3 separate regions of the Homo sapiens genome follow, and regions 2 and 3 are each linked to region 1. Evidence: fine-mapped expression QTL. A gene starts in region 1. Each other region holds a variant in brackets. All regions are shown on one strand. Distances are from middle to middle.

Region 1 (9,897 bases):
TTTTGCACCAACCTGATAGATAACGACACCCCAGGAGACGCGATCACACAGAATGACTGGTGTGCATTGCACAAATACACATCTACCTATGCACAGCCCAGCCAGAGACTCACCTTGCCCATCCCAGAGTGTGCGTGCCCCATCTTCACAACCACGGGGTACGTTGTACTGCTGAGCTGGTGGGGAAAAGGCAGAGGAGACATGCTCAGGGCAGAAAGGGTGACCTCCAGGGGTGGGGCGGCACTGAGGGGATCCCAGCCAGTGGGAACTGCATTATGAGTCACTTCCCAGGACACACAGGTCAGAGACAGGCAGGCAGCAGCTGGGGGTCACACAGTGTCTCCACCTCCGGGCCCAGAATTGAACCCAGAGCCCTGTCTGTCTGTCCCTCACTCCACCCCACCAACAAGTTCCAGACGTCCCGCCCCTGCTTTCCCGGGCAGAGGCATGGTATGAGCGTGGGGGACTGTTCCAGTAAAAAGAAAGTTTGTTTTTACAGTGGATGGATGATAGTGAGGCAAGTGTGTGCCAGTGCGTGTGTGTGGGGGTGGGGGGGGTGGGGAGTGGTGGTGAGCATGTAGTGACTGAACCCCTCAGCCAAACCTTGTATGTAAGCCTCACCTGCACACATAAACTATTGAGAGGCATGAGCCCTTGGAACTCAGATGTACATCGCCAAACCCAGAGATGCCAGTGACATTGAGACTGACAGCCAACACAGGCTCAAAGCACATGAGCTCTGGAGCAGCACAGACACCCACACAGTCATTCAGCCAGCCAGGTGCCCATAGCGTGGGTCAGCAGCCAGCACTCCAGGGCAGCACACACTGGACACCCTTAGGCACACAATCAATACTTGGGCACACACCCAGGTTCCCTCCCCTCACCCAAACCCACATCACCATCAGGGGAACACACACAACACAAAAGATTACCCGTCCAATCAAGAGACACACAACTCCACAGGCACACTCCACAGAACCGGGCACATACTCAACACACAGGCACACATAAAACACCCCTAGGCAAATGCACAGCAAATAAGGCCCTACACAACACACAGAGGTGTATGCACTTCTAGGTATTCACATCACCACTGGGACCCGTAAGAGACCCACGCCACATTCCTGGGCATACAAAAAGTATATCTAGACACACACACAACATGCCTTGCCACATATACAATACAGAGAGGCTACACACAACCAGAGACACCCACAACTCAGTTTGCAGAAAACATTCCTGGGCACTCCCACCCCAACACACATACAGTCACACATTCAGGCGAGAGGGATACCTCAAGTCTCCCCCGCTCCTGGATGGGGTAGAGGAAACCAGGTTGGACGGCCCTAGGCTCCCCGCTCCCTCCACCCCCACCCCCACAGCACAGCTGCACAGTGCCCCTCTGGTGGCCCTCCCTCTCGCTGACAAGGTAGAGAGATGGCATTCCCGGAGGGGCTGCTGGGGCGGTGGTGGTTCCCAGTTCCCGACAGGCACAGGAAGCCCGCAGACTCAGGGTGACCGATTGACCTTAAGGCCTCCCTCTGCACACCCCCCCTTCCTCATTTCCCAAATGACTGGCGTCATTATGAGGTGGGCTGAGAGGCACGATGTTGGGACGGGGGTTTGGGGCATCTCTGGGCAGCGGGCCAGGGAAACGATGCCGAGGCGGATGCATACAGTACCACCCAGGTGTGCGCACAGCACACAGAAGTGCATAATGCACTCAGTTACATATGCAACCCAGATCCGCTTTGCCGAGGCTGGTAGACAACTCCCAGAAGTAACACACAAAACACACAGGCACATGCTCGACTCTTAGCAATGGACACACAACACACCAGAGAGCTGTGCGTACACACCCATACCTCCCCCAACAACCCTGAGGTTTCTAGGTGCCTCTTTTCGTTAACTGTCCTTGTTTTCTCTGGACTTGAGCCTGAACACAACGCTCTGTATATGTGTGTGTGCCCATACATGTGTGCATGCAGAGTGCTTTGAACTCTGACTCTGGGAGCTCCTGGAAAGCCCTAGGTCTGAATTTTGGCCTTTCTTCTTCCTAAGGCCATGAAGGACACAACCTCTCCCTGAGCCTCAGTTTCCCCATCTGCACAAAGAGCACAATGAGGCCCAAGCACCTGGTATGCTGTGGGCATTGTCAGGTGTCCGCTTTGCACATGCCTCCTGGACCCCCATGGGCCCCCACACCCATCCAGCTCCCCAGATGGTCACACACCCCTCCATGAACACCCCTCCCACTCTCCATTTCAAAACTGCACAATAACCGGATCCACACGACTCCTCATGTAAACAGTCGGCAACACTCTGTGCTGACTCAGGTTTCAAAGAGTTGGCGTCAGAACCAGAGTCAGCGAGGGGCCAAGGCAGGACTTCCCCTGCCCTCACTTCTCCCTCGGAGGCACCAGGTTACTCAGCCCCGTCTCATTCACTCTCACTGTCCCACTTTCATAATCAGCTCCTACAGATTTTTTTGGTTTACTTCCCTTCCTCCCTGTTTTTGTCGCCCCCCCACCCTCCCCCCACCACCCCGCAGCAGAGCCATTTCTTCATTCTCATTCCTGGGTAGGTCACTCAGCCCTTTTGTGTCTAAGTTTCCTCATCTGTATAATGAGAACATGAGCTATATCTAACTCACAGGGATATTGTGAGAAATAAGTTAGTTATTTTGGGAAAAATGCTCTACATGGTATCGGGCATACAGTAAGCCTCGATCCTCAAGAAGTGTTGGGTACTCTTATTATTGGCTTAACATCTCTTCCTTAACTAACATTAATGAACAAAGAGGCAATCGGGATTGATTAAATGAGATAATGTCTGTAAAAAGACTTTAGAACAGTGCTTTTTTTTTTTTTTTTAAATAGAGACAGGGTTTCACCATGTTGCCCAGACTGGTCTTGAACTCCTGAGCTCAAGCGATCTGCCTGCCTCAGCCTCCCAAAGTGCTGGGATTACAGGTGTGAGCCACCATGCCCGGCCAAGTGCTTTCTTAAAAAATAGATTTAGGCTGGGTGCCGTAGCTCACGCATGTAATCGCAGCACTTTGGGAGGCTGAGGTGGGCGGATCACCCGAGGTCAGGAGTTTGAGACCAGCCTGGCCAACATGGTGAAACCCCGTCTCTACTAAAAATACAAAAATTAGCCAGGCGTGGTGGCGTGTGCCTGTAACCCCAGCTACTGAGGAGGCTGAGGCAGGAGAATTGCTTGAACCCAGGAGGTGGAGGTTGCAGTGAGCCAAGATCTTGCCATTGCACTCCAGCCTGGGAAACAAGATCGAAACTCTGTCTAAAAAAAAAAAAAAGATTTAGAAGGCCGGGTGTGGTGGCTCACGCCTGTAATCCCAACACTTTGGGAGGTCGAGGCAGGTGGATCACCTGAAGTCAGGAGTTCGAGATCTGACCAATATGGTGAAACCCCCGTCTCTACTAAAACTACAAAAATTAGCTGGGGGTGGTGGTGGTGTGGCTGTAATCCCAGCTACTCAGGAGGCTGAGACAGGAGAATCTCTTGAACCCCGGAGGCGGAGGTTGCAGTGAGCTGAGATCGCGCCACTGCACTCCAGCCTAGGTGACAGAGCAAGACTCTTGTCAAAAAAAAAAAATAGATTTAGAGGGTACAGCTGCAGTTTTGTGACATGGATATATTACATAGTGGTGAAGTCTGGGCTTTTAGTGTCCCCATCAACCAAATAGTGTACATTGTACCCATTAGGCAATTTCTCATCCCTCACATTCCTCCCACCCAGAATAGTGCTGGATACGCAGTAAGCACTCCATAAGGGCTGCTGGTAGTTTTTGTTGTGTTCTTGTTATTGGGCTATCATCCCTGAGTTAATCAAACTTAATTAGCAAGGGAGTATGGTGAGTGAATGAGATAATTTATACAAACACTTTAGCACATAGTACACAGAAAGTGCTCAATAAGTGGCTGCCATCATCACTACAATTATTATTATTGATCTATCCTCCTCGAATTAAGGATGTTAATCAGAACCCCAGGGAAGGTTCCTGCATTGTCAGAAAGCTGGTGGGCAAGGATTGCCCCACCCCACCCCCCACCAGGGGTACAGGTCCATGGGGAGGGGGCAGGGCAGGATGGGGTGGGGATTAGTTTTCTACTGACCCACTCACTTGCTTCTTTCACCATCATTCATGGCCACCCCCTTCCCAATGCTCATTCATTCACCCGCACCATTCCCTGCTTGCTAGGACGGTGCCACTCCTGAGTTACAACCCTGGTGCCAGGTAGCCTCTGTTTGAATCCCGGCCATGCCCTGTGATCTTAGGAAAATTCTACAGTTCCTCTACGCCCCATATTTCCTCATCCGTAAAACGGGAATAAGAACCGGTACCCATCTCAGAGATTTGTTGTGAGCTTTGAGTGAGATAAACTATGCTGAGTGCCTGGTATACAGTAGGTGCTGTATAAATGCCGGCTATTTGCCTGTGTTATTTGAGACCCTGGCTTTGGCTCCTGGCCACCTGAGTTCCAGTCTCAGTTCTGCCATGTATTGACTCTGTGATCCTGGGTAAGTCACTTAACCACTCCGTGCCTCAGTTTCCCCATTTTGTATTCCTCCCCTTTCACCTGCCTTATCTCCCTCCACTGCTGCTACTTAATTTGTTTCCTCTCTGCCACCCCTCACCAGCATGTCAGACATACAAAACAAGGGATTTTTGTGTGCTTGGCACACAGTAGATGCACAATAAATGTTGAAGGGCTGAACTAATTTGGGTTTGAGTCATAGGGAGCTTGGGGGATGTGGGTGATTGGATAGATTCTGGAGACTTTAGGGGACTGGGCCGGGGGAAATGCGGCCTCTAAGCTCTCCGCTGAGGCGGCTTGGAAGGAATAGTGACTGACGTGGAGGTGGGGGAGGTGGCTGGCCCGGGCGAGGCCCAGGGAGAGGGAGAGGAGGCGGGTGGGAGAGGAGGAGGGTGTATCTCCTTTCGTCGGCCCGCCCCTTGGCTTCTGCACTGATGGTGGGTGGATGAGTAATGCATCCAGGAAGCCTGGAGGCCTGTGGTTTCCGCACCCGCTGCCACCCCCGCCCCTAGCGTGGACATTTATCCTCTAGCGCTCAGGCCCTGCCGCCATCGCCGCAGATCCAGCGCCCAGAGAGACACCAGAGGTAAGCAGGGCCCGGGGTGGCCCAGCAGGGACCGGAGCTGGGCTGCAGCTTGGGTGCTGGCCACCAGGCCCGTGCACTCCCGTGCCAGATGCCTGTCTACTCAGCTTGGCCTGCGGGTACCAGGACCCTGGGCTAGTCTAGGGGGAAGAGGGTCGGAGGCTGGAACTGCTTTCCCAACCCCGAGGCTCCAAACTCCCTAGAACCCCTGACATCCGCCCCCAATTCCCCCAAACCCATGACCCCCTAATATCACAAATGCTTTCCAAATCCCCCCGCAAATTCCTTCATCCCGAAATTTCCCTCATCGCCCCCTAAATACCCACCGCTAACCCCTGCAGCTCCCTAAACTCCCCCAGCTCCCCAATCCCCAGTTCCCCAGCTCCCAAACTTCTTTTGCCCTCAAATTCCTCAAGTATCCCCATTGCCTTAAGCCCCCAAATTCCCCCAACCCCTTCAACCTCCAAACTCCCCCAGCTCCCTAAACCCCCAACCTCCTCCAAATTCCTCAACCTCCCTAAATTCCCCCAGCCTCTTATATCTCTTAATATACACAACCCCTAAACTCTGCCGTCTCCAAACTCCTCCAGCCCCCAATCCCAAATTCCTCACCCCCAAACTCCTCAACCTCCAGAATTCCCCAATCCCCTCATTCCTCAAACTTCCTCAGCCCCCTTCTCCCCCAAGTGCCACAACCCCATAACCCCGCAACTCACTCAGTCCCTCAATAATTTAAACTCTCCCAACTCTCTAAACCCTAAATTCCTCTGCGCTCCCCAATCCCCTTAAAATCCCTAAGCTTACCAACCCCTCAAGCCCAAATCCAGCCCCCTAATCCCCCCCATAGGCTGCCCCGGGGCAAGATGGGGTGGATGACCTGCCCAGGTCAGCAGATCAGCTGGGCCGGGGCCTGCCTGACATCCCCCTTCCCCACAGAACCCACCATGGCCCCCTTTGAGCCCCTGGCTTCTGGCATCCTGTTGTTGCTGTGGCTGATAGCCCCCAGCAGGGCCTGCACCTGTGTCCCACCCCACCCACAGACGGCCTTCTGCAATTCCGACCTCGGTGAGTCCTCACCCCACTCAGCCCACACACTCTGCCTTGGTTTCCCTTTCAGTCCAGTGGGGCTCACCATGGCACTTACCTCTAGAATGATTCCACTCGCCCCTGCACTTCCTCTGCTTTAGCCACACTGGCATCCTCACACTTCCTTGAGTACTCTGTGCCCAAGCCCACCACAGGATCTGCATGCTGGCTGCTCCCTCTGCCTGGTACACTTTCCCCCCAGGTATCCACATGGGTGGCTGCCTCAAACGTCACCTTCTCAGGATGGCCTTCCCTGGCCATCCTGTTTAAAATTTTAACCCCTGCCCCTTAGTACTCCTGATCTCCTGTTAAACAGAAAAATATTCAGTGATACTTGTTATAACACAGTAAGGAAGACCATATTCAGGACCATGGTGATGGGTATAGGAACCACTGCAATGGGATCTTGCAGTCGGTGGGAGAGATTGGGCTCAACACTGAATATAGCATGGGCCAGTGGGAATGTGTAGCTAAGGAGCAGTGTGAGGGTCTGTGGGTGGAAATTACTAAGAAGAAACATCAGGGGTAAGGGGGATTCTGGCTAAACCGACGTAACAGGATTCTTGCTGAAGGCAGGCCAAGGGGAATCAGACATCACCTGGGGGATGGTGGAAGATGAAGAACCCAGTCAGATAGCAAGGATGATCAGGTATTGAGGATGATCAGAGATTGAGGATGATCAGAGATTGAGGATGATCAGGTATTGAGGATGATCAGAGATTGAGGATGATCAGGTATTGAGGATGATCAGAGATTGAGGATGATCAGGTATTGAGGATGATCAGAGATTGAGGATGATCAGATATAGAATATAGGGGTTCTTGCTAAACTGACTTAGCAAGGCTCTCGGCTAAAACTGGATTTTACAAGGAAGTGCACAGATGGGCCTAGGAGGAGGTTCAGGAGCCTGAGTAAAGTTTGGTCAAGCAAAGAATCTTTGTCAGCCCCTTACCCAGGTCTGTAATTCCCCATTATACTTAATGTCTAACATTCCATATCCTTATTTTGTTTGTTCTTAGCCTGTCTCCTCCTGGCTAGAATGTGAACTCCACAAGGAAAGGGATTTCTGTGTTTTGTTCACTGTTGTGTCCCTAACACCCAGAACAATGTCTGGCACACAGTGGGCACTCCCAAATATTTGAGGAGTAAATGAACAAATCAATGTATGAAAATGGCTTAAGCAGTGCCCGGCAAAGAGAGACACTCAACATACAGATGAATCAATGAACAAATGTGTAAATCACTTTGTGTGCTGTCTGGCATCCAATAACCCCTATTTATGTATGCGCTTTGCTGGTATGATGATGATGATGATGATGATCTTATTTTTATTGGCTCATGCAGTCCATTTGACTCATATTTCCCTCCTCTCCTGCAGTCATCAGGGCCAAGTTCGTGGGGACACCAGAAGTCAACCAGACCACCTTATACCAGCGTTATGAGATCAAGATGACCAAGGTATCCCCTGCCCCCGCCTCTTTCCCAGCATTTTCTAACATCTTCCTCCTGGTCAAAACAGAAACTTCTGGCCACTGGTTGGTGCGAGAAAGTTGGCTGTGATCTTGGGATGCTATATGACTTCAGGGAAGAACCTGGAGTGGGAGGATTATGTCAGTAAAAGAGACACTTCCCCTCATCCATCAACAGATGTATAAAGGGTTCCAAGCCTTAGGGGATGCCGCTGACATCCGGTTCGTCTACACCCCCGCCATGGAGAGTGTCTGCGGATACTTCCACAGGTCCCACAACCGCAGCGAGGAGTTTCTCATTGCTGGTGAGGCACCGTCCCCGCGCCCTGTGCCACACCAACCAGTCCCTGGGGCGCGGCCTAGCAACCACGAGGGGGCGAGGCTCTGATGGGAATGGTCCCACTGGAAATGGGGACCACCCCAATTTCAGTCTATCAGAAGGCCGGGCCTTTGGCAGCTTGGCAGCTCAGCCAATCACAAGCTGCTTGTCGGTCCCCGCCCCGCCTTTCTCCTTAGGAAAACTGCAGGATGGACTCTTGCACATCACTACCTGCAGTTTTGTGGCTCCCTGGAACAGCCTGAGCTTAGCTCAGCGCCGGGGCTTCACCAAGACCTACACTGTTGGCTGTGAGGAATGCACAGTGAGTGCCTGGACCCTGACCTCCAACGGGAGATCCTTCCCGGGGCCATTCCCTAAATCGTGGGCTTGTTTCTTGCTCCCTCTGGCTATTCTGTGTCCCTGTGGCTGCTCCCCAACCCTAAGGGCTGTCCCTGATCTCTCTTGCTATTTCCCCAAGCCCGAGACTGCTCCCTTACAAATTCTGGCTGCTCCCTTTCCCTGTGTCCAATACCGTGTGATCACCTGTCCCTCCCTGGTCCCTCTAATTCTCCCTTGTGACTATTCTGTAATCCCACTCCCCGTTCCTGAGCCCCCGGGATTGTTTCTTGGTTCCCCAGAATGTTCTCCAAGAACCCAAAGTGCTGTTCCCTAATCCCACTGACCCTTCCTCAGCACATCTGCTTGTTGCTCTGCAGCTCTGACTATTCCAGACACCAGAGGGTGTTACACTGACCTCCTGGCTAGTCCAAGCCTGTTCCCTGATGGCTCCTGATGGCCTCTGAGCCCAGTGACTATCTTGAAGCCCCACTGGCTATTCCTGTGCTTAAACTCCTTAGCCGCCAACCGGGTGGGGCCCCTTACTACTGCCAGTTTTTCCCTGTCCTTTGGGACAATTCCACAGGCGACCTGCCTGACTGACCCCCAGGGCCTATTCCCCAGCCACCATTCCAGGACACTGATTTACTGGCTTACTGTTACCTTTCAGGACCCAGTGACATTTCCCTCAATGGGAGGGGCTGTCCTGGGGTATGTACTTAGGTGGGGTGAGAGCAAGTCTCCCCAGCGGCTCAGTGTTGAAAGCTGAGGAGAGGAAGTTCTGCTCCACGGGGGAGGCAGGGAGAAGCCCTCAGAGATGTTTCCCTCCTCCCTTCCAGGTGTTTCCCTGTTTATCCATCCCCTGCAAACTGCAGAGTGGCACTCATTGCTTGTGGACGGACCAGCTCCTCCAAGGCTCTGAAAAGGGCTTCCAGTCCCGTCACCTTGCCTGCCTGCCTCGGGAGCCAGGGCTGTGCACCTGGCAGTCCCTGCGGTCCCAGATAGCCTGAATCCTGCCCGGAGTGGAAGCTGAAGCCTGCACAGTGTCCACCCTGTTCCCACTCCCATCTTTCTTCCGGACAATGAAATAAAGAGTTACCACCCAGCAGACACTGTTTCTGTGTAGTGCCTGGGAACAAACCCATGTTGCTGATGACCTGGTGTGAGCACCCTGGGACCAGTGGGGATGAGGGATGCCAAATGTTGGGTTTTTATATTTTACTTAAATTCTGATGTACTGGTAGTAATTCTCAACATTGGCATTAGCACTGATGATCTGCAACAGCAGCAATGGTCACTGAACCTGCATTATCAACCGTAACCTCTGAATAATTTCTCCAGCCAATACTTTAAAACATTTTCCTATACTGATTCCTAATTGCTATTTGCCCAGGGCTTTCTAGTTATAAATTATCCCACAGCTGACAAATCACTGCCTTACTGGAAATTCCCCATTCACACATCTTGCCAGCTGACAGAGTCATTGACAAATGCCCTACCAATTGGCAAATGACTATCATTGCCTCAAGCACAGTCCTGAT
Region 2 (11,412 bases), 18 kb after region 1:
TGCCTATGCAATGAAGTCTCCATGAAGGGCTGAAGAGGATGGAGTTGGAGAGCTTCTGGATAGCCGAACATGTGGGGTTCCTGGAGGGTGGCTACCTGGGGGTGGGGCATGGAAGCTCTGTGCTCTTTCCCACATGCTTCGTCCTCTGCATCTCTTCATCTGTATCCTTTGTAATGTAATACTCTTTACAATAAACCGATCATGTAAATAAGTGTTTCCCTGAGTTCCATGAGCCACACTAGCAAACTAATTGAACCTGAGGAAGGGGTTGTGGACCCCGATTTATAGCTAGTTGGTCAGAAGCACAGGTAAAATAACCTGGGGCTTGCCATCAGCATTAGAAGTAGGGCTTAGTCCTGTGGGACTACACCCTTAACCTGTGTGATCTGATGCTATCCTCCAGGTAGATAGTGTCAGAATTGAATTGCAGGACATCCAGCTGGTATATTAATTTGCTGCAGAATTAATTGCTTCTTGGTGTGTGTGTAAAAGCCTCCACACATGGTATTGTGAGAGCAGAAGAAAAAACAGTTTGATTCTTCTACTCACACACATATAACAATTTTATATATACACATATATGAAATTATATATATATACATAAAGAAATGAAATGTCCTAGCTGTGTACAATGAGAGGGCCTTGAAGCAAGAACATTCCAGTAGCAATGAGTAAATCTAGTTCCCAGATCTTGGCTTTGAAATACTATTATCTTTGGGCTGGGGCCGGGAAAGAACAAGATATGCCTGGAGGTGATGTCAGCAGAAATGTAAGAGCCTGTCTTCTCCTCCTTAAAATTGCTTAAAAGCAATGAGAACACTGGCAAAAATTGTCAAAACAAACTTATCAGAACTCTGGAAATTGACCAAGGTTTACAATTCAGAAAGCATTTTTTCAAGAAAATGGCTGAATCTTGGTAACAACAGGAAGCTGTGGCATTTGAACTTCTCTTGTACACATCCCCTTCTCCTCACCTCCACAAGAGCCTTGAAAATCAACAGCCCTGCAATTCCAGTGAAAACCAGCAGACTAGCAACCATTGGAGGAGGCAGAACAGGGTTGGAGTTCCTCCAAAATCTCATTTCCAGAGAACTGTCTTTATTTGATCTGTCTGGCACTATCCTGAATACTCCACTCATGGGGCTCATCTGGTATAAACAGCTTTCTCTGGGGGTGCTTTTCAGAAACAATTAGCAGCAACTGTTTAACACAGCAGTGATAACATTTAGGAAAAAACAACAAGCTTTTCAAGAAAACTTAAAAGGAAAATCTAGGTAATTATATATCCATTATCAGTCCATTATTAGGCTTTAAAAAGCTCTGACATATGCCTGGGAATCTAGAAAACCACAAATACGCATAAGGCTGTATGTATGCCTAGGATCTCTGGCTGACCTCAAAACTCTGCACAAGCAGGAAATGAAGGATAAGGCAAAGTTGTAAACAGCCTGCCTTTGCATTAAAGGCACACCCTGACATGCACATAGAGCCCATCAGCAAAGTCTGGGAGACTTACTGGTTTCAGGTGATTTAAAGAAATATCTGTCCAATCATTAGCTGACCACTAAGCTAACGGAGCAGAGACTTGGGTAGCCACATATGACAAAGAACACAGGCTTTACAGAATTAGTTCAGGAAGGTCACTAAAAACAAAACAAAGCAATAAAAACAAATCCTGAGGAGGGGAGAGAACCTGATTCCCAGAGTTGCCACATTATATTATTTAAATGTCCAGTTTTCAACAAAAATGTATGAGAGATGCAAAGAAACAAAATTAAGTGTGGCCCAAACACAGGGAAAAAAGCAGTCAAACACTATCCCTGAGGAAACCCAGATGTTAGACTTAATAGGCAAAAACTGTAAATCAGTGATTTTTAATATTTTCAAAGAACTAAAGGAAACTATGTTTAAAGAACTTAAAGGAAAGGATAAAATGATATCCTAATAAGTAGAGAGTATCAATAAAGAGAAATTACATGAAAAAGAAATTCTGGGCCGGGCATGGTGGCTCATGCCTGTAATCCCAGCACTTTGGGAGACTGAGGCGGGTGGATCACCTGAGGTCAGGAGTTTGAGACCAGCCTGGCCAATACGGTGAAACCCCCCTCTCAACTAAAAATACAAAAATTATCCAGGCATGGTGGCGTGTGCCTGTAATCCCAGCTACTCGGGAGGCTGAGGCACGAGAATTGCTTGAACCTGGGAGGTGGAGGTTGCAGTGAGCCGAGATTGTGCCATTGCACTCTAGCCTGGGTGACAGGAGTGAAACTCCATCTCAAAAAAAAAAAAAAAAAGAAATTCTGGAGATAAAAAGCATAATAACTGAAATGAAAAATTCACTAGAGGGGATCAACAGTAGCTTTGAGCTGGCAGGGTAAAGAATCAGTGAATTTGAAGACAGGTCAGGTGAGATGATCCAATCTGAGGAACAGGAAGAAGAAAAGTAAACAAAATGAACACAGTCCTAGAGGTCTGTGGAACACCATGAAGCATATGAACACCCACATAATGGAAGTCCCAAAAGGAGAGAGAAAAGAGAGAAAAAAAGGTGCAAGAAAGACTATTTGAAGGAATAATGGCTAAAAATCCCCCCAATTTGATTTAAAGCATTAATCTATGCATTCAAGAAGTGCACTGAACTCCAACTAAGATAAATTCAAAGAGATAGGCACCCAGACACATCATAAACTTATAAAAGCTAAAGACAGAGAGAATCTTGAAAGTAAGAGAGAAGTAACTCATCATATACAAGGAATCCTCAATAGGATTAGCAGCTAATTTCTCATTAGAAATCTTGAAGTCAGAGGGCAGTAGGACAACATATTCAAAGTACTGAAAGAAAAAGACTGCCAAACAAGAATTCTACATCCAGCAAAATTATCTTTCAAAAATGAAGGAGAAATTAAGACATTCACAGATAAACAAAAACTGAGATAGTTCATCACTAACAAACTTCTACAAAAAATGCTAAACGGAGTCCTTCAGGGTGAAATAAAATGATACTAGCTAGTAATGTAAATCTACATAAAGAAATAAATAGCACCTGTAAAGTTAACTACATAGGTAAATATAAAAGACAGTATAAATGCATTTTTTTGCGTGTAACACTTTTTTACTCCTGATTTAAAAGACAACTGCATAAAGCAATAACTATAACTATGTTCATGGGCACACAATGTGTAAAGATGTAATTTGTTTGACAATAATAGCACAAAGGAGGGATGAAGGAATAAAGTTATATAGAGGCAATTTCTTTGTATTACTGAGCTTAATTTGGTATTAATTCTAATTGGAGTAATATAAATAATGATGTTAATTGTAATACCCAAGGAAACAACTAAGAAAAAAAAAAAACAGGCTAAGTGCAGTGGCTCATGCCTGTAATCACAACACTTTGGGAGGCCAAGGTGGGTAACTTGAGCTCAGGAGTTTGAGACCAGCATGGGCAACATGGCAAGGTCCTGTCTCTACAAAAAAATTAAAAATTGGCCAGGTGCGGTGGCACACGCCTGTAATCCCAGTACTTTGGGAAGCCAAGGTGGGCAGATCACAAGGTCAGGAGTTCGAGACCAGCCTGGCCAACATGGTGAAACCCCGCCTCAATTAAAATACAAAAAAATTAGCTGGGTGTGGTGGCAGGCACCTGTAGTCCCAGCTACTAAGAAGGCTGAGGCAGGAGAATTGCTTGAACCCAGGAGGTGGAGGTTGCAGTGAGCCGAGATCGTGCCACTGCACTCCAGCCTGGGTGACAGAGTGAGACTTTGTCTCAAAATAAATAAATAAATAAATAAATAAAAAATAAAAAACTAAAAATTAGCTGAGCATGATAGCACATGCCTGTGGTCCCAGCTATTCAGGAGGCTGAGGCAGGAGGGTAGCTTGAGCCCAGGAGGTTGAGGCTGCAATGAGCCATGTTCCTACCATGGCACTCTGGCCTGGGTGACAGAGCAAGACCCTGTATCAAAAAAAAATAAAAATTTTTTAAATTAAAAAAATGAATAAAAGACATAGGGAAGAAATAACAGAAAAATTAAAAATGGTACACTAGAAAATATCTGTTTAACTTAAAAGAAGGCATTACTAGAGGAATACAGGAACAAAAAATAAGATATAGAAAACAAATAGCAAAATTGCAAACATAAACCCTACCTTATCAGGAATTACAATAACATAAGTTAATTAAACACTGCGATTAACCCTTTTCCTGTTTAGGAAAAAAAAACGTGCAGCTTGCTGCCTGTGCTCACTAGATTTTATATAAACATGCTCTTTGAGGCTGAAGCAAAGCTAACTGATTTTCAATGTCAAAACAAAATATAAAAACTATTCTTGGAGTTATTTCTAAGCTGAACTAACATCAGAATCATCTGAATCATCAGAATCATCTGAATCATCAGAACCATCTATTTTGGAAAAATCAGATTCATCAAATGATTCTTCATCCAACGACTGTTCAAGAACGATGTTAACATCATTTGTAGGGATGTTACATTTTCTAGGATTTGACATTTTCAATGATTGAGAATTACTATATTTTGTAAGTGGAAATACCACTCCTAAAAACAGAATGCTATAAATAGAATGATGTCTTTTGTTTCCAAAGTCGATATACTAGAGTGATGTGAAAATAATAATAAAAATGAGACAGTTTGTGGCAAAGTTATCTCAGGGTAAACACTGCAGCCGCAAGTGCCATCAGAGAGTGTTCTCAGCACAAACGGTAAAGGGTTAATAGGCACAGTGGATGAAAAACGTGACTTAATTATATGCTATCTGTAAGAGGCACATTTTAGATTCAAAGACCCAAATAAGTTGAAAGTAAATGGATGGAAAAAGATTTACCATGCAAACAATAGCCAAAAGAGAGCTGGAATAGCTATACTAATATGAGGTAAAATAGAATTTAAAACAGCAATTGTTACTTGAGATAAAGAAAAATATTTTATAAGCATAAATGGTCAATCCATCAAGAAGATTTAACAATAATAAGTATATGTGCACCTAACAACACAGCACAAAATATATGAAATAAAAACAGGCAGAATTGGAGACAGAAATAGACAATTCAACAATTATAGCTGAAGACTTCAATATCTCATTTAAAGAAATGGGTAAAACAACTAGACAGGGAACCAAAAAGGAAGTTTTTTTTTTTTTTGGAGACGTGGTCTCACTCAGACTGGAGTGCAGTGGTGCAATCTCAGCTCACTGCAACCTCCACTTTCTGGGCTCAAGTGATCCTCCCACTTCAGCCTCCTGAGTAGCTGGGACTATAGGCGTGTGCCACCATGTGGCTTTTTGTGTGTGCATGTGTATTTTTTGCAGAGTTGGGGTTTTGCCATGTAGCCCAGGATGGTCTTGAACTCCTGCACTCAAGCAATCCACCCGCCTCAGACTCCCAAGGTGCTGGAATTAGAGGTGTGAGCTACTGTGCATGGCCAATAAGGAAGATTTGAAAAATGCTATAAACCAATTAGACCTCATAAACATCTATAGAACACTTCACCCTACAATGGCAGAATACACATTCTTCTTCAGTGCACATGGAACATTCTTCAGGACAGACTATATGTTAAGCCAGAAAACAAATCTCAGTAAATTGAAAAGGACTGAAATTATACAAAATATGTTCTCTGACCACAATGGAATGAAATTAGACATCAAAAACAGAAGAAAATTTGAAAAATTTACAAATATGTGGAAAGTAACACACTCCTAAATAACCAATAGGTCAAAGAAGAAATCACAAGTGAAATTAGAAGATACTTTGAGATGAATGAAAATGAACACACAACATATCAAAATGTAAGGGATGCAGTTAAAGTGGTGCTTAAAGGAGAATTCATAGTTGTAACTGCCTATATCTAAAAAGAAGAAAGATATCAAAATCAGTAACCTAATCTTCCATTTTTTTCTAGGAAATTAGAAAGAAAAGAGCAAACTAAGTCCAAAGCAAGCACAAGGAAAAACATAATAAGAGTAGAAATAAATGACATAAAGAATTTTAAAAATAGAGAACTAATAAAACAAAAATTTGGTTCTTTGAAAAGATCAATAAAATTGATAAACCTTTAGACTAAGAATAAAAAAGGGCAGAAAATTCTAATTACTAAAATCAGGAATGAAAGAGTGGACATACTACTGACCTTACAGAAATAAAAAGTATTATAAGAGAGTATAAGAGAGTACTGTGAACAATTATGTGCCAGTAAGTTAGAAAACCTAGATGAAATGGACAAATTCCTAGAAAGACACAAACTACAAAAACTGACTCAGTAAGAAATGGAAAATCTCAATAGACCTATAACAAGTGAAGAGATTGATTTAGGAATAAGTAAAACTTCCTACAAAGACATACCCAGGACCAGATGTCTTCACTGGTGAATTCTACTAAACATTTAAAAAGAATTAATACCGACCAGGCATGGTGGCTCACACCTGTAATCCTAGCATTTTGGTAGGCCAAAGCAGGAGGATCGCTTGAGCCCAGGGGTTCAAGACCAGCCTGAGCAACACAGCAAGACCCTGTCTCAAAAAAAGAAAAAAAATTAATGCCAATCTTCACAAAATCTTCCCAAAAATAGAAGAAGGAACACTGTCCAACTTATTCTATGAGGCCAGTATTATCCTGATACCAAAACCAGAAAAAGACATCATAAGAAAACTACAGAGCAATGTCTCTTACGAATATAGATACAATAATCCTTAACAAAATAATCACAAACTAAATCCTACAACATACAAAAAGGATTTATACCAAGGCCAAGTGAGATTTAGCCTAGGAATGCAAATGTCTACACCTAGACACATCATAAACAAACTTATGAACGTATCAACTTGCATGAAAATCAATTAATGTACTACATACCATATTCATAGAATAAAGGACAAAATTCACACAATCATGTCAATAAACACAGAAGAAGCATTTGACAATGTCCAACATCCTTTCACGACAAAAATACTCAACCAACTAAGAATAGAAGGAGAAATTTGTCAACACTGAGGTAGCAGTTAATATATGCCAGATGCATTGTTCTAGACACCTTACATTTACTAAGTAATTTCATTCTCACACCAACTATATGAGGCGGGAACTATTATTACCTACATTTTGCAGATGAATAAACTGAGGTACAGGGCGTTTAAGTAACTTTTCCTGTGTTAAGCAACTAATAAGTTGTGGAGGTAAGATTCTTATACAGAAATTCTGGCTACAGAGTCCATGCTCTTAATCACATTCTGCTCTACTGTCTCTCAAAGAATGTAGACTAATAATAATGATAAACAAATTGGGTTTCCTTAAAACTAATGATTCAAGCCGGGCATGGTGGTTCATGCCTGTAATCCCAGCACTTTGGGAGGCCGAGGCGGGCAGATTGAGACCATGCTGGCCAACATGGTGAAACCCCTTTTCTACTAAAAATACAAAAAGTAGCTGGGCGTGGTGGCACGCACCTGTAGTCCCAGCTACTCGGGAGGCTGAGTCAGGAGATTCGCTTGAACCCAGGAGGCGGAGGCTGCAGTGAGCTGAGATTGTGCCACTGCACTCCAGCCTGGCGACAGAGCGAGACTCCTCCTCAAAAAAAAAAAAGAAAAACTAATGATTCAATCTTTATCTGTAAGTAAACTTAACTTACAACACTGTTGACGTATATCAGTGATCATAATTTGTAGTACTGGTAAGAATTGCTAATATTAGTAGCAATGTTTATTTAATCAAGTTGATAGTGTTGGGTCAATATTTATATTTAATTGTAATTTTAGTCATAAAATTGGTGATGATCATTTATATGAGTAAACATAATTTGTAATATTGGTAAAAATTGACAAAATTACTTATACAATTTGATTGCATTAGTAACAATTATTTAATTTCTATTTGTAACTAAAATTTGATTCATAACTGTGGTACTCATAATTTATATTAGTAATCAAAATTTTAATATTAGTGATTTTTTTTATAATAGCAGTTAGAATGTTAACCATATTAGTAATTATTTCTATTAGGAACTACAAGATAATTCAAAACACAGGTACTCATGGGTTATATTAGTAATCTTAATTTGTAACACTGGTAATAGTTATATCTGTAAAAATTTTTACACTGTTTGTACTAATGGTTTAATTTTATTTACTTATTTATTTAATGTTTTGAGACAGGGTCTCACTC[T/G]GTTGCCCAGGTTGGGATGCGGTGGTGCTATCATGGCTCACTGCAGCCTCAACCTCCAGGGCTCAAGCAATCTTCCCACCTCAGCTTCCCAAGTAGCTGGGACTACAGGTGTATGCCACCATGCCGGGCTGATTTTTAAATTTTTTGTAGAAATGGGGTCTCGCTATGTTGCCCAGGCTGGTCTCAAACTCCTGGGCTCACGAGATCCTCCCACTTTGGGTTTAAATTTTTAAAAAATAATTATAACAATTTACAACATAAGTACTAATCATTTATAGTAATAAACTTAATTTGTAACACTGTAATGCATTGTAATATTAGTTGTTATATTTGATGATATTAGCAATGATAATTCAATTTCTATTATTTAAACGTTCAGCATATTTTATTCTGGCACATTGTAGCCCAATGACCCAACTGTGGTAGTCTCCACTGCATGCCATGTTTATGTAAGTCAAAACAGGTACTTATAATTTATATTAGAGCATAATTTGTAATAGCAATAATCATTTGTAATAACAGCAATAATCTTTGATGCTATTAGTAATGATTATTCAATTTCTACTAGAAACTATAATTTAATTCATGACATAGGTACTCATAATTTACAACAGTAAAAATAATTTATAATATTAGTGATAATTTGTAATATTAGTGATTATATATATATATATATTTTTTTTTTTTTTTTTTGAGATGGAGTTTCGCTCTTGTTGCCCAAGCTGGAGTGTAATAGCGTGATCTTGGCTCACCACAACCTCCGCCTCCCGGGTTCCAGCGATTCCCCTGCCTCAACTTCCCAGGTAGCTGGGATTACAGGCATGCACCACCACGCCGGGCTAATTTTGTATTTTTTTAGTAGAGACAGGGTTTCTCCATGTTGGTCAGGCTGGTCTCAAACTCCCGACCTCAGGTGATCCGCCCACTTCGGCCTCCCGAAGTGTTGGGATTACAGGCATGAGCCACCGCGCCCGGCCAGTGATTATATTTCATAATAGTAACCAAAAGTTCAATTTCTATTAATTAATTAATAGGAGGGAGGCTGAGGTGGGACTCTGTTGCCCAAGCTGGAGTGCAGTGGCGTGATCTCTGGTCACTGCAACCTCCAACTCCCGGGTTCAAGTGATTCTCCTGCCTCAGCCTCCCAAGTAGCTGGGACTACAGGCACGCACCACCATGCCCAGCTAATTTTTGTATTTTTAGTAGAGACGGGGTCTCATTATGTTGACCAGGCTGGTCTTGATCTCCTGACCTCATGATCTGCTCACCTCAGCCTCTCAAAGTGCTGGGATTACAGGCATGAGCCACCGTGCCTTGCCAACAATTTAATTTATAACATTATTATTGATAAATGTTATTGGCAATCCTAATTTGAATATAGGTAAAATTTCTATCAGAAGGAATATTTGATAATGTTAGTAATAATGACTTAATTTCTATATGTAATATATTCTGATTCATTACATTAATTCTGTCAATTCACATTAGAAATAGGTTTTTAATACTGGCAAAAATAGACAACATGAGTAACAGGATCTGATACATATTAGAATGGATCATGATTTAGTTTTCCTTGTAAGCATAAGGAAATTCACGGTAGACCCTATCACAAAGCAACTTCATGACTCCACGTGCACACAGCAGCCACACTCTTGATATCGCACTGCTGATAATATACCAATATTTAATATTATTGCAGTAGTTATGACTCTTCCCTCCTGCCCACTCTATTTTCCCCAAACTCACCATTTCTTTGTGATTGGGGTAGAAGGTCTGATCAATTAGAGGGAATTCTTCTGTCCCCAGTTTCTTATGCAGTCGAACCATCTGGGCAAACTATGAGAACCAGGAGAGCTGGGTCAGTGAGTCCTTCACCACGAATCTGTAAGTTTCTGAACACCCTCACTTCCCCAAATCGCAGACTGGTTTCAAGCTCCCACATACATGCATGAGCTGTTCCCTCTGCCAGTGGCACCCTTCCTGTTACTTACCACCCAGGGCTTGTCACAGAAGTTGTAGACAGAATGCAAGGAGTTAACACTGGGGATTCCAGCATACTGCAGCCCAATGACCAAACTGCGGTAGTCTCCGTTGCGTGCCATGCTGAAGGCGTGCTGGCGGATCAGCACAAAATCCGGCTTCAGAGACCTAGTGTGGCAGGGGTAGGAGTGTTGAGAGTTCCCCCAGAAGCTCCCAATCACTCTCGAAACAAAGACCAAGTTTTTAAATCTCCATAGCTCCCAGAAATTGCAAAGTGGTTTCTCACCTCTGCACACATGTGTGAGCTGTTCCCTCTGCCTAGTGCACCCTTTCTACCCTCTGCCCACCTGGTGATCCCCTTTAAGCCTCTCCTACCTGTTCCCTTCTCAGCAAGGTCAGCTTGCAGCTTACCGACACAGCTCTGACAACTCCCTGGTCACCATCTCTCAGACTGCAAGCTGTCTTCAGTGTTCTGCCCAGAATAAATTCTAACCTTGGGACCTTTACCAAGGCTGTTCCATCTGCCTAAAGCACTTCCCCCCTAGATATCTGCATGGATCACTCCTTCACCTCCATCAGGTCTTTCCTCAAATGTCTCTCCTGCAACCAGGCCACCCTATCCCAACTGCAGACCCCACCATCATCCAACAATTGCTACATCTGCTTTAGTGCTATATATATATTTTTTTCTTTTTTTTTTTTCTGTTGAGACGGACTGTTGCTCTGTTGTCCAGGCGCTGGAGCAATCATGGCTCACTGTAATCTCCGCCTCTCGGGTTCAAGCGATTTCCCTGCCTCAGCCTCCCGAGTAGCTGGGATTACAGGCACCTGCCACCACGCCTGGCTAATTTTTTTATTTTTAGTAGAGACGGGGTTTCACCATGTTGGCCAGGCTGATTTTGAACTCCTGGGCTCAAGCAATCCACCCACCTTGGCCTCCCAAAGTGCTGGGATTATAGGCATGAGCCACCACATCCGGCCACTGTTATGTTTTTTCTTAGCACTTTTACATTTTCTTATTTATTTGTGTATTGTGTGTATCTCACAGTAGAATGTAAGTTTCATAAGGCCCAGGTTCTTTTTCTTTTTTTTTTTTTGGCCTTTCAGCATGTAGAATATCTCCTGGCACACAGTAGGTGTACAATAAATATTTATTGAATATGAAGTCCTGAGAGCAGCATCTGGCATGCAGCAGATGTCTAGCAAATGTTTATTTAATTAATAATTGAAGGCTGGGTGTGGCGGCTCATGCCTGTAAT
Region 3 (11,412 bases), 31 kb after region 1:
TTCAGGCCAAGGGTTGGAGACCACCCTGGACAATATAGAGAGACCCCCATCTCTACAAAAAAAATTGAAAAAAAAAAAAAAAAAACAAAAGCCGAGGGCTGTGGCTCACGTCTATAATCCCACAACTTTGAGAGGCCAAGGCGGGTGGATCACCTGAGGTCAAGAGTTCGAGACCAGCCTGACCAACATGGTGAAACCCCTTCTCTACTAAAATACAAAATTAGCCAGGTGTAGTGGTGCATGCCTGTATTCCCAGCTACTTGGGAGGCTGAGGCAGGAGAATCACTTGGACCCAGGAGGCGGAAGTTGCAGTGAGCCAAAATGGTGCTATTACACTCCAGCCTGGGCAACAAGAGCGAGACTCCATCTCCAAAAAACCCAAAAAACAAAAACTAGCCAGGCATAGTGGTGCATGCCTGTAGTCCCAGCTACTGGGGAGGCTGAGGCAGGAGAATGGCTTGAGCCCAGGAGGTCGAGGCTGTAGTGAGCCGTGATTGCACCACTGCACTCCAGCTTGGGGAACAGAGCAAGACCTAGGCAAAAAAGAGAAAGAAATAAAGAGAAAGGAAGGAAGGAAGGAAGGAAGGAAGGAAGGAAGGAAGGAAGGAAGGAAGGAAGGAAGGAAGGAAGGGGAAGGAAGGAAGGGGAAGGAAGGAAGGAAGGAGAGAAAGAAACTACATTTCTCTGAAGCGTGCCTGTTTTTGTGTATTTTTTAGTGCCTGTGTATATGTCAGTGCCTGTGTCTGGCTGTGTGGCCTGAAGCATCTCTCTGCTCTCTGGCCCTTTCGCAAGGAGGAGCACATTCACCATGTGTGGTTGTGTGCTGTGAGAAACACAATGGCCATAGGTGGGCAGCTGCATCCGATAAGGAGGAGTGGATTGAGTGGTGCAGGCTGGGTGGCTCTAGAGAAGCCAGTGTAGCTGGCAATGATGGGGGGCAGGGAGGAATGCAGCTGAGGAGGAGAGGGAGCAACAGGAGGGAGGGGGAGTGGGAGCAGCAGTAGGAACATCACGAACTGCTATGTCATTGTCCCCGGGCCCGTCCCCAGCTGGGCTTGGTTTCCGGTGGCCTCCTCCCCCAGGCTCAAGATTTCTAGCCAACAGGCTGCTTGCTCCAGGGATGGAAGCTCATCCTCAATCAGGTTTATCATGGAAGGGGGATGAGGGGGAGAGACACTTTCAGGGCTACTGGTCACTGACACACATACAATCAGGGTCTTGGACAGACACACACACACACACACACACACACACACACACACGGCACAAATGGACCCTGGTGACTTGACTGACATATGCAAGAGACCCCAAGTACAGCTACTTCTTTTTCCTTGCTCTCTCTCTGACACACACACACACACACACACACACACACACACCATCGCTGACACTATCCCCTCAGAAGTGTTGAGAGAGAATCTCTCTCAGCCCTGCACATTTTTCATCTATAAACTGATGAGTGGGGATGATGAGGGTGTATCACTGTTTCTAAAACTTTTCTGACCATAAGTGTAGTTGGATACTGTGGTGGTCTGCTCAGGCCTCCTCTTCAGGGACAATGTACCTTGAATGGCAGCTACTGACAGCTCATGGCTGTGTCCCCACTGGGAATTGTCTTGTCACAGGGAACTGCCTTGTCCAAGGTTACACCTACTTCATGAGGGCATCCCCATGGTCTGGTCTATGAAGGGAAAGAAAGGCCAGCCTCCTTGCCTCAATCTGGGCTGACTCTGAAGGACCCTCCCAGCCCCAGGGCTCCCCCTAAGAGCAGCGGAGGCCCCTAAGGCAACTACATCTTGAGCCAGCCTCTTCCTCTGCTCAACCCAACCCTCCTCACAAGTGTTGATCCCAATGGCACACTCCAGTAAGCCTCCTGCATGCAAATCTCCACCTCAAAGTCTTTTTCCAGGGAACCCAACCTAAAACAGTGGGCCATGGAAGTCAAACTACAAGGGTGGTCTAATGCAATTCTGGAGCTGGGTTACCCAGCAGCCAGATGGCAGTGAGGACCCATCAGTAGTGGGAGGTGGGGCATAGATAGCCTCCGATATGCTGTAGCAACGCAAAGTGCTCTGCAGCAGGTCCGGGCTGTGGTGCAAGCAGGATGTGACTTAGGCCATATGATCCAGCAGATCCTATGACACTGGAGGTGTCAGTAGTAGGAAAAGATGCTGTGTGGAATTTCTTCTCCCAGGTGGGAGAATACAGCGCAGGCCCCCAGGGTTTTGGAGTAGCGGTGACTTTTCCTGATGGTGGGCTGTAATGGGATTCTGGTGGAAGGGAATGTACTGGATGGTGAAATATCCCTGGAACTTGAGTGATGTCAGGGAAATGGTAACCAGACTTGGGTGACTATTCCCTAAACGCCATTGAGTAGCTGAAGAAAGACCTGACATGCTCAGGGTGAATTCAAGGCAAAATGTGAAAGCCAGAGGATCTCCCTGACTGCATTTAAGGAAACCCTCATCTCCTGCAGTCAGAGGGCAGACAGAAGGGAGGGCCAGGCTCAGAATTTAATTCTACGTGGTGGCGGAGCTTCGGAGAAAGTTGACTTCTCAGGCCCAGCACATCTCCTGGGCCATGCTCATGTCCCTAATAGGACAGGAGTAGGACTCTGAGATGGGGATATCTGGGCAGATGCAGTTAAACACCTTGAACTTACAGACTCACCTGCATCCACTGGGCCTGCTGAAGTAGACTACTCCCCTGAGTTAGAATATAGACCTTCTGCTTGAAGATAATGCAGAGGCCTCGGATGATGCAGGTGCTTTGTAAGACAATGCCTGCCCCCCTCAGAGTCTACCCCCCACCTACCCTCCTGGAAACCAGACCAAAAATTAGGGTGAAATCCTAGTGAAACCTGACTGGACAGGTTCTAGGCTTGCAAAGGGAGAGAAATGATCTGTAGAAGAACCTAAAGAATCTGGCTAGTACGTATTGGCAGGAGCTGGGAAGGTATGCATGAGACTGGATCCTGAGGACAATGGGCGAAGGAGGTAGAACAGGAAGTTGGTGTGCTCTCCCAGGATACGGAACTTAAAACCCTGGCGAGGACTCTAGGAAGTGTTACTAACACACTGGTATTTGGAAACCTGGAGTAAACAATGGCCCACACTAAGTGAAGCAGAACTTCCATGGCAGATTGCACAGGGAAGGATTAAAGGGCTCAAAGAAGCAGACATGTTGGAGTAGATATACTACTGAAGTCTGGAAAACCCACCAGCTGATTAAGGCCTGGAGGATACACTCAACTTATGAAATTAATAAGAAACATGCTGGTGAGGGTGGTACCAGTCA[C/T]GCTGAGAAGCACAGTAGTGGTAAGGTGATAAATGAGTCCTGGCCCAGGTCCTGCTTACAGTGGGTCTGGTGGGTCTAGAGACCCACCCAGTGGTCACTTCCTCAGTTCACAAATGCGTAATTGCAATGGCATACTTTGTAGTTGTCAGAACCCCTACATGGGCTCCTCAGCCTGTGGGATAAGAGCTGTTTCAGTAGGGAAGTCCAAATAGAAGCTTCTAAAATGGCGCACACCCCCATGCCCTGAACAAAACAATAAACCACAAACAATATTGTGTGCATCCTATGGGTGATGATGGAAATCAATGCCACATTGAAAGATCTAAAGGATGCAGGGGTGTTGGTCTCATCTTATCTCCATCGAGTTGAGCAGTCTGGCCCCTGGAGAGGTCAGATGGGTCCTGGAGAATGCTTGCAGATTACTGCAAGCACAATCAAGTAGTACCCTTAGTTATACCTGCCATACTGGACACGCTGTCATTGCCAGAGCAGATTAATAAGACCTCAGGTACAGCAGGTGGCTGCTGACTTGGCAAATGCATTCTTTTTTATTCTGATTAGAAAAAAGGATCAGAAACAGTTTACACTCACATGAGACTGATGATAATATTCATAGATGGTCTTGCTGTAGGGCTATGCTATCTCTCTCACCTGGTGTCATAATATAGTCCAGAGAAACCTGGACTATCTGGACATCCCATGGAATAGCACACTGGACCACCACATGGATTACATCATACTGATTGTGCAAGATGAGCAAGAGAGGGTGAGCATATTGCCCTGGTAAGACACATCCACTACAGAGGGTGGAGGATAAACTCCACAAAGACTCAGGGGACCGATGCATTAGTAAAATTTTTAGGAATCCAGTGGTCCAGGGCAGTAAACCAGGACAGCCCCTCCAAAGAATAGAGCAAAGCATTGAATCACGCACCTTCCACCATGAAGAGGAAAGCACAATACCTAGGAGGCCTCTTCCCATTCTGGAGGCAGCATGTCCCCCACACACAAATAATGCTCTGACCCATATTCCAGGCGACATGTAAAGCTACCAGCTTTGTGTGAGGGCCAGAGCAGAAAAGGGCTCTGCAGCAGGTCCAGGCTGTGGTACAAGCAGTCCTGCCATTTAGGCCAGATGATCTGGCAGATCTTATGATACTGGAGGTGTCAGTAGTGGGGAAAGATGCAGTGAGGAGCTTATGGGAAGCCTGAGTGGGAGGCCCTTGGGGTTCTGGAGCAAAGCCATGCCATCTGCAGCAGAGAATTTTACGCCTTTTGAGAAAGACACCCCATTGAGGTGCTGGGCCCTGATAGAGACAGAATGCTTGACCAGGCACCAAATGATTGTGCATCCAGAAGTTCCCATTATAAGCTGGGTCCTGCTGGGCCCGCCAAATAATAAAGTCAGGTGGGCCCAGCAGTCAGGATTGAGCCCAAGCAGAACCAAGCAAGGTGCATGAGCAGGTAAGTAACCCTGATCCCCATGTCTTCCACACTGTTGTGCTAGTGCCTGTCTCACTAAGGGGACTCCTTAAAACTAGCTGATGAAAGAGGGAAAGGTCTAAGCTTGGTTCACAAATTGGTTGTCTTAGTATGTGGGTGGAAGCCAAAAATGGGCAGTGGTTGCACTATAACCCAACTGGAATGGCCTTGAAAGACAGTGGCAGAGCTCCCAGTGGGCAGAGCTTCAGGCTGTGCACCTGCTCATCTCCTTTGTGCAGAAAGAGAAGTGCCTCAAGATTAGAATACATATATCCACTTATGGGCAGTGGTAAATGGTTTGGCTGGTTGGTCAGGGGCCTGGAAATAAAAAGACTGGAAGATCCAGACAAAGAGGTCTGGGATACAGAAATGTGGGCAGACACCTAGGAGTGGGCAAGAAATGAGGAGTGAGACTGGGCGCGGTGGCTCACGCCTGTAATCCCAGCACTTTGGGAGGCCGAGGTGGGCGGATTACCTGAGGTCAGGAGTTCAAGACCAGCTTAGCCAATGTGGTGAAACCCCATCTCTACTAAAAATACAAAAATTAGCCGGGCGTGGTGGCGCACGCCTGTAATCCCAGCTACTCGGGAGGCTGAGGCAGGGGAATTGCTTCAACCTGGGAGGTGGAGGTTGCACTGAGCCAAGATCGTGCCACAGCACCAGCCTGGGCAATAGAGCGAGACTCCGTCTCCAAAAAAAAAAAAAAAAAAAAAAAAAGGGAGGAGCGAGGATCTTTGGATCGTGTGTTAACACCCACCAGACAGCATCTGCCATGGCGCCATGGAAGTGACACTAGGCAACCAGGTAGACAGCATGAGTCAGCCCGATGATGTCAGCCAGGCTCTAATCAGCCACCCCAGTGTTAGCAGATGGGCACATGAATAAGTGGCAATAGCAGCAGAGAGAGAAGCTATGTGTGGGGGCAGCAGTGTTACTGCTGAATGTCCAATCTGCCAGCAACAGAGACTAACATTGAATCCCTGACACGCCACCATCCCTCCAGAAGGCCAACCAACCACTTTGTGGCAAGCTGATTAGATTGGGCCCCTTCCATCCTGCAAAGAACAGTAATCGATTTTGACTGGAATATTCCATATTTGAGTTTGCCTTTTCTTACTGCAGGACCTCAGCCAGCTCACTGTCTAAGGGCTTACATAACGTTTGATCCACCAGCACGAGACCCTGCATAACACTGCGTCAAACCAAAGGACACACTTTATAGCAAAGTAAAGGAATGCAAAGCAAAGGAGGTGCAAAAGTGGGCCCATGACCATGGAATTAACTGATGGTATTACACACCACGCCACCCGGGAGCTGCTGGCCTGATGGAATGATGGAACAATTTGGTGCAGCCACAGCTAAGATCCCAGGTTGAAGGTGAGATCATGCAAGAATGGGCACCATCCTCCAAAACAGTGTCAACCCTAAATCAATGGCCATTGTAGGTGCTGTGTTCCTAACAGGTAGAATACACCGGTTTGGGGACACAGAGGTTAGGAAGGAGTGGCCCAGCTTACCAGCAATCCCAGTGATCCACTTTTGAAATTGTGCTTCCTGTTCCCTCAGGGCTCTGCAAGGTTAGAGGTCCTGGTTCTCCAAGGGGGAACACTGCTACCAGGGGACACAGCAAGAATCCCATTAAACTGTAAGCTATGATTGCCCTCAGGGCACTTCGTGTTTCTCATGCCAAGGGACATAAAAAGGAGCCATTGTCTTGGCAGGGGACGTGACCAACCTTGCTCCTCAGGAGGAGGTAGAGCTGCTGGTACACAGTGGAGGCAGGGAGGAGTATGTCTGGCACCCAGGGGATCCACTTGGGCATCTGTTGGTACTCCTTGCTCAACTTTGATAGTAAATGGGAAATGTGGTTGTTTGTACAGCAGCTACAGCCTGAGAAGGGCATGGGGACCAAAGGCTCAGGGATCTCTGCAGGATGGGAGCCACCCAGACCAAGAGTGGTGCTAGCTGAGGGTGGGGGGAATCTAGAATGGGTAACAAAAGAAGGAGAGGATGAATATCATTTATGACGTTGAAATCAACTGCAGCAGCAGAGACTATGGCTCATCTCACTACCGTGCTCTTTCAAGTGTCCCTGAGAAAACAAGACCGATTAGAATTCTGGAAATGCCGTTCCCCAATGGGGTGAACTTACTATAAGAAGGAAGTGGATCGGAGCAGTGCAAGGTGTGGACTATATGCTCCCCCCAGATCCTTACCTCCTTGTTCCAGACCTTTGCATCTATCCTCAGCTTCTGGAATTATCCGCTGCTGATGGCTCATAGGTGTCCCTCACTGGGCATTGGCCTCTGCAACAGGGATTTGCCTCACCCAAGATTACGCCTCCTCCCAGGGGGCAGCCTACAGCCAATGACTGACATAGGAATTCAAAGCCTGGCCACCCCGCTTCAACTGGGACAACTCTGAAGGGTCATTCCAGTGCCAGAGCTCCCCAGAGGATTGGCCGAGGCCTCTTTTGTGGTTGCATCACAGCTCAACTTTTCCCTCTGCACAATCCTGCTTCCCTCACAACCTCCCCCACAGGTGTTATTCCCAAGCGCTCTCCCCAGTAAATCTGCATGCAAATCTCAGAGTCTCGGGGTCTGCTTCCAGGGAAATATATCTGAGAAAAGAAGCCACAGTAAGAAATAAAGCTTATATAACCCACTATATATGTATTTGCATAATAACTCATCCTATATATGTATTATATAAGACACATATGTTGTACAGCAAATATGAGAATATAGAATGTCTTATATATTATGTAACATATAAAATGTTGTATATTACATATTATGTGTATATGTATTTAGAATGTATATAAATACATATGCATAACTGGAATTAAAGTTTCAATAGATAATTACCTTTACTATGTGTAATGCAGTCTGATTTTTCTATGCTATTTTATTTCATTTCATGAAGAAGAACATATACATATAGATGTATTATGTACTGTAAAGCCATTGTATAACACATGTATTACATACCGTATGTCATATATAATATACATTACAGATTGTATATCTTAATGGAATAACATTATATGTTTTGCTAAACAACAACTCCATTTACTATGTGCAATATGCTCTGTTATTCTCTATTTTTATTTATCCTACTTCAAGAAGAAAGTGAAATGCTGGTCATAAGCCAATAGGTGACCCATAGTTTGAGAAACACCAGAGAGCCGGGCACGGTGGCTCAAGCCTGTAATCCCAGCACTCTGGGAGGCCGAGGTGGGTGGATCACGAGGTCAGAAGTTTGAGACCAGCCTGACCAACATGGTGAAACCCCATCTCTACGAAAAATACAAAAATTAGCCAGGCATAGTGGCATGTGCCTGTAGTCCCAGCTACTCAGGAGGCTCGCTTGAACCCAGGAGACGGAGGTTGCAGTGAGCCGAGATCGTGCCATTGCACTCCAGCCTGGGCGACAGAGCAAGACTCCGTCTCAAAAAAAAAAAAAGAAAGAAAAACACAGGACAAAATTACCCACAAAATGGGGGAGATGAGTCTCAACTTAGAGTTTTCAACTTTAAACCACAGAGGAATTGAGACCCAGGAAGGAATGAGGGTGGTGAGGTTTGGTGGAAAAGGCGTCAGACTGTATTTCGGTGTACATTCCATCACAGAGTTTGCACAACTCCTGCTTTATTTGGGGCTGAAATCCCTGAAGCTAGTGTGGTTCTGAGTGTCTGCAAGTTGGTAAAACAGGTCTCTGTTCCCCACACTGAGCCTGGCGTACATACATAGGCTCTGTCCCTTTGTCCACCCCACCCCACATATAGTAGACACTAAATAAATATTTGCTAGATTGCCTGGAAGAAAAGACTGGAGGGGATGCTGGGATAAAGGGGGGCTTCTGAGATGCAGAAGGGGAAGGGATGGATCTTTCACTGAATTCAGCAGGTGCTCAATAAATGTTTTCTGGACAAAGAAAAAATGGAAAACATTGAATTTGTGATTATGGAAAGGGGAAGGGACTTGTCAGTATTCCATAGATAATAAATGCTTGATGGAAAGAAGGAAGCAGACGCAAAGGACCTGCATGGAGGGCTGGAGTGGAGACCGGAAGTCTAAAGGAGGGTGATTACCTATATCCAGCAGAGGCCTCATTGATGTTTGCTGACTTCAATGGAGCAAACTTAACCAGGAAGATAACACGTTGGTGAGTGGACGTTGGTGAAGGAATTACAGCACGTGCTCCATAAATGCTTTACAGATTGATAGAGAAAAAAGCGGAGAAGCCTGCTGCAGGGATGATAATGTGGCTGTTTGAAAATAATACAGTAAGAGATTAATAAGTGTTTTCTGGACTAATTCGGGGAGAAAAAGGCAGCTGGGGAGATGGCTACTAAGTGGAGGAAGAGGCCTAGCTAGAATAAATGGAAAACAGTGCACATTGTGAGCTTTCAGGATTGTGTTGTGTAAAAGGCAGGATGGAGATTGTTGAAGGGGGAATTGGGACTACAAAAAGGGGAGAAGAGGCATTTAACGCAGGGTTCTCAGTAGTATACGATAAATGCTCATTAAATGATTGTGGGGTTGCATGGAGGAAAAGGTATAGCAAGGCCAGCTGGCAGGTGAGGATTTCAAGCACACCTGCATTTAGAAAAAAAAGAAGGAAGGGGAGCTGAAGAAGGGTTATTCCTAGTATATAATGGTGCATAATAAATGCCTCCCACACTTTCATGGAAAGGATGCAATAAATATCTGCAGAATGAATAAATTGCTCTGAATGGAGAGAAAGGCTACTCGGTAAAGGCTCCTGGGGGAGAGGTAATCTAACCAGTAAACAGCTGGTACTCAATACATTTAGGCTGAAGTAGACCCCTAGAGAGAGAGCTCTTGAGGCAGGGTCAGGGATTTCCAGAGACTTGGAAAGAGGAAGTTGAAAGTGACTTATACAGTAAGTGCTCAATAAGTGTTTACTTAAATAGTAAAACTATTAAGTAAATAGTAAATTTAGTAAATTTACTAAATTTATTTAGTAAATTAAGTCAATAGTAAAACTATTAAGTAAAAGTGTTTACTTAAGTAAGTGTTACTTAAATAGACTAAAAGCCCTTTGGGGGTATGAATTAAAGTTGGTAGAGGGAATCCTAGGGGTACTGAAGGGAGTGGGAAAGGGGTGATCATTATAAACTCAGCTCTGGATTTATCACAGGAAAGGACCTTGGGAGAGGCCTTGTGATTGGAACAGGCTCTCCTAGGGGTAAGGAAGAAGAATGTACTCCCCAAAACAACAGGTCCTGCATATGTGCTCACTGGATCTACTGTTAAGAAAACAATTCTGGGGAGGAGGTGTGAATATACAGAACACACAGAAGACACTCCATAAATGCTCAGGGGAGCCATTGGAAGAAAAGGTCTTTGGGGGAGGATGATTAAAATGGAGCACATGACAGACAAGGAATAAATGCTCACTGGATCCATTAGAAGAAAAGGCCTTTGGGGAGTGGGGCTGGGGATGGACATATAGTCACCTGATCAAGGCTCACTGCATCCCTGAAGGAAAAGTCCTATGGGGAGGGGAAATGGGAGTGCAGAAAGTTGATCTATGGGAGCTCGATTCTTCATCCATAGGAGAAAAGGCTTTTGTGAAGAAGGCACACAATCAGGTACACAGCAGGTGCTCCATAAATACTCCAAGGAGTGATTAAAAGAAAAGGTCTTTGGAAAGAGTGACTGGAATGGTACACACAGCAAGTGCCAGATATCTGAGCACTGTATTAACTGGAGGCACAGGCCTTTATGGAGAGGTCTAAGGTTGGGTCATGCAGAAAGTGCTCAATACATGCAGACTGAAGCCACTGGAGGAAAGGGTATTGCAGAAAGGGTTTGAGGGTGGGGTATACAGCAGGCACCAGTCAATGCATGCTTGCTGAATACACTGGAGGAAAGAACTTTTAGAGAAGGCTCACACTGCAGGCAGTTGATAAATGCTAGATGGATCCACCAAAGGAAAGGTCTTTGAAGAAGTAGCTGGAGAACGGGGGATACAAGAGGCACTCAATAAATGTTTTCTAGATCCACTGTAGGGAAAGGTCTTTGAGGAGACGGTCTGAAGATGAGTCACACAAAGAAGGTTCAAAACTGCTCATGGAACTCACTGGAGGAAAATGATTTGTTTGAGAAGGGGTTTGGGGGTGCGGCACGTATCAGGCACTTAACAAATGCTTCCTAGATCCTTTGGAGAAAAGGCCCTCAGAGAGAGGGCTTGGAGTTGGGGCACAGAGAAGGCATCCAATCAAAACTCACAGGATCCATGAAAGGCAAAGCTTTTGGAGAGAAGCTGGGGTGGGATACACAGCAGGTACTCAATGTTTACTAAATAGTTTAAAAGGGCTTTAAGGACGGAGCTGGGGTGGGACACATAGCATAGACTGGACACATGCTCACAAGACCCATTAGAGAAGGCCTCAGGGCAAGGGTTGAGGAGAACAGGACAGTATCAGGCTCTCAAAGAATGCTCACAAACCTCATTGAAATCAAAGGCCTTGGGGAAGGGCTCTTGGATGAGGCATACTGCAGGTACTAGATAAGTGCTCACAAGATCCATTAGAGGACAAGGCCTATGGGGCAAGGGTTGGGGAGGGTAGGAAGGACACGTTCGGTTTTCGAAGGCTCATAG

The links.
Region 2: its variant is fine-mapped to the expression of TIMP1 in whole blood (TOPMed, PIP 0.94).
Region 3: its variant is fine-mapped to the expression of TIMP1 in whole blood (TOPMed, PIP 0.97).

What each region holds. Positions count from the first base shown.
Region 1 is chrX:47,577,326-47,587,222 of GRCh38, forward strand. TIMP1 (TIMP metallopeptidase inhibitor 1) reads left to right here and starts at 5,111. Exons shown (of 6, transcript NM_003254.3): 1 at 5,111-5,149; 2 at 6,083-6,211; 3 at 7,611-7,690; 4 at 7,880-8,006; 5 at 8,218-8,342; 6 at 9,196-9,464. The coding sequence starts at 6,091. The coding sequence ends at 9,366. It overlaps SYN1 (synapsin I), which reads right to left. Exons shown (of 13, transcript NM_006950.3): 6 at 114-176. RefSeq lists an enhancer at 125-419, a cis regulatory region at 2,121-2,641 and silencers at 2,255-2,428, 4,759-4,908, 4,969-5,068.
Region 2 is chrX:47,595,059-47,606,470 of GRCh38, forward strand. SYN1 (synapsin I) reads right to left here. Exons shown (of 13, transcript NM_006950.3): 4 at 10,165-10,321; 5 at 9,920-10,009. Among named protein-coding and RNA genes, the nearest start is that of MIR4769, 13 kb to the left of the region's middle. The variant T/G (reference allele first, on the strand shown) is at 8,174.
Region 3 is chrX:47,607,661-47,619,072 of GRCh38, forward strand. The region is part of intron 1 of SYN1 (synapsin I); the gene reads right to left. Among named protein-coding and RNA genes, the nearest start is that of SYN1, 6.5 kb to the right of the region's middle. The variant C/T (reference allele first, on the strand shown) is at 3,298.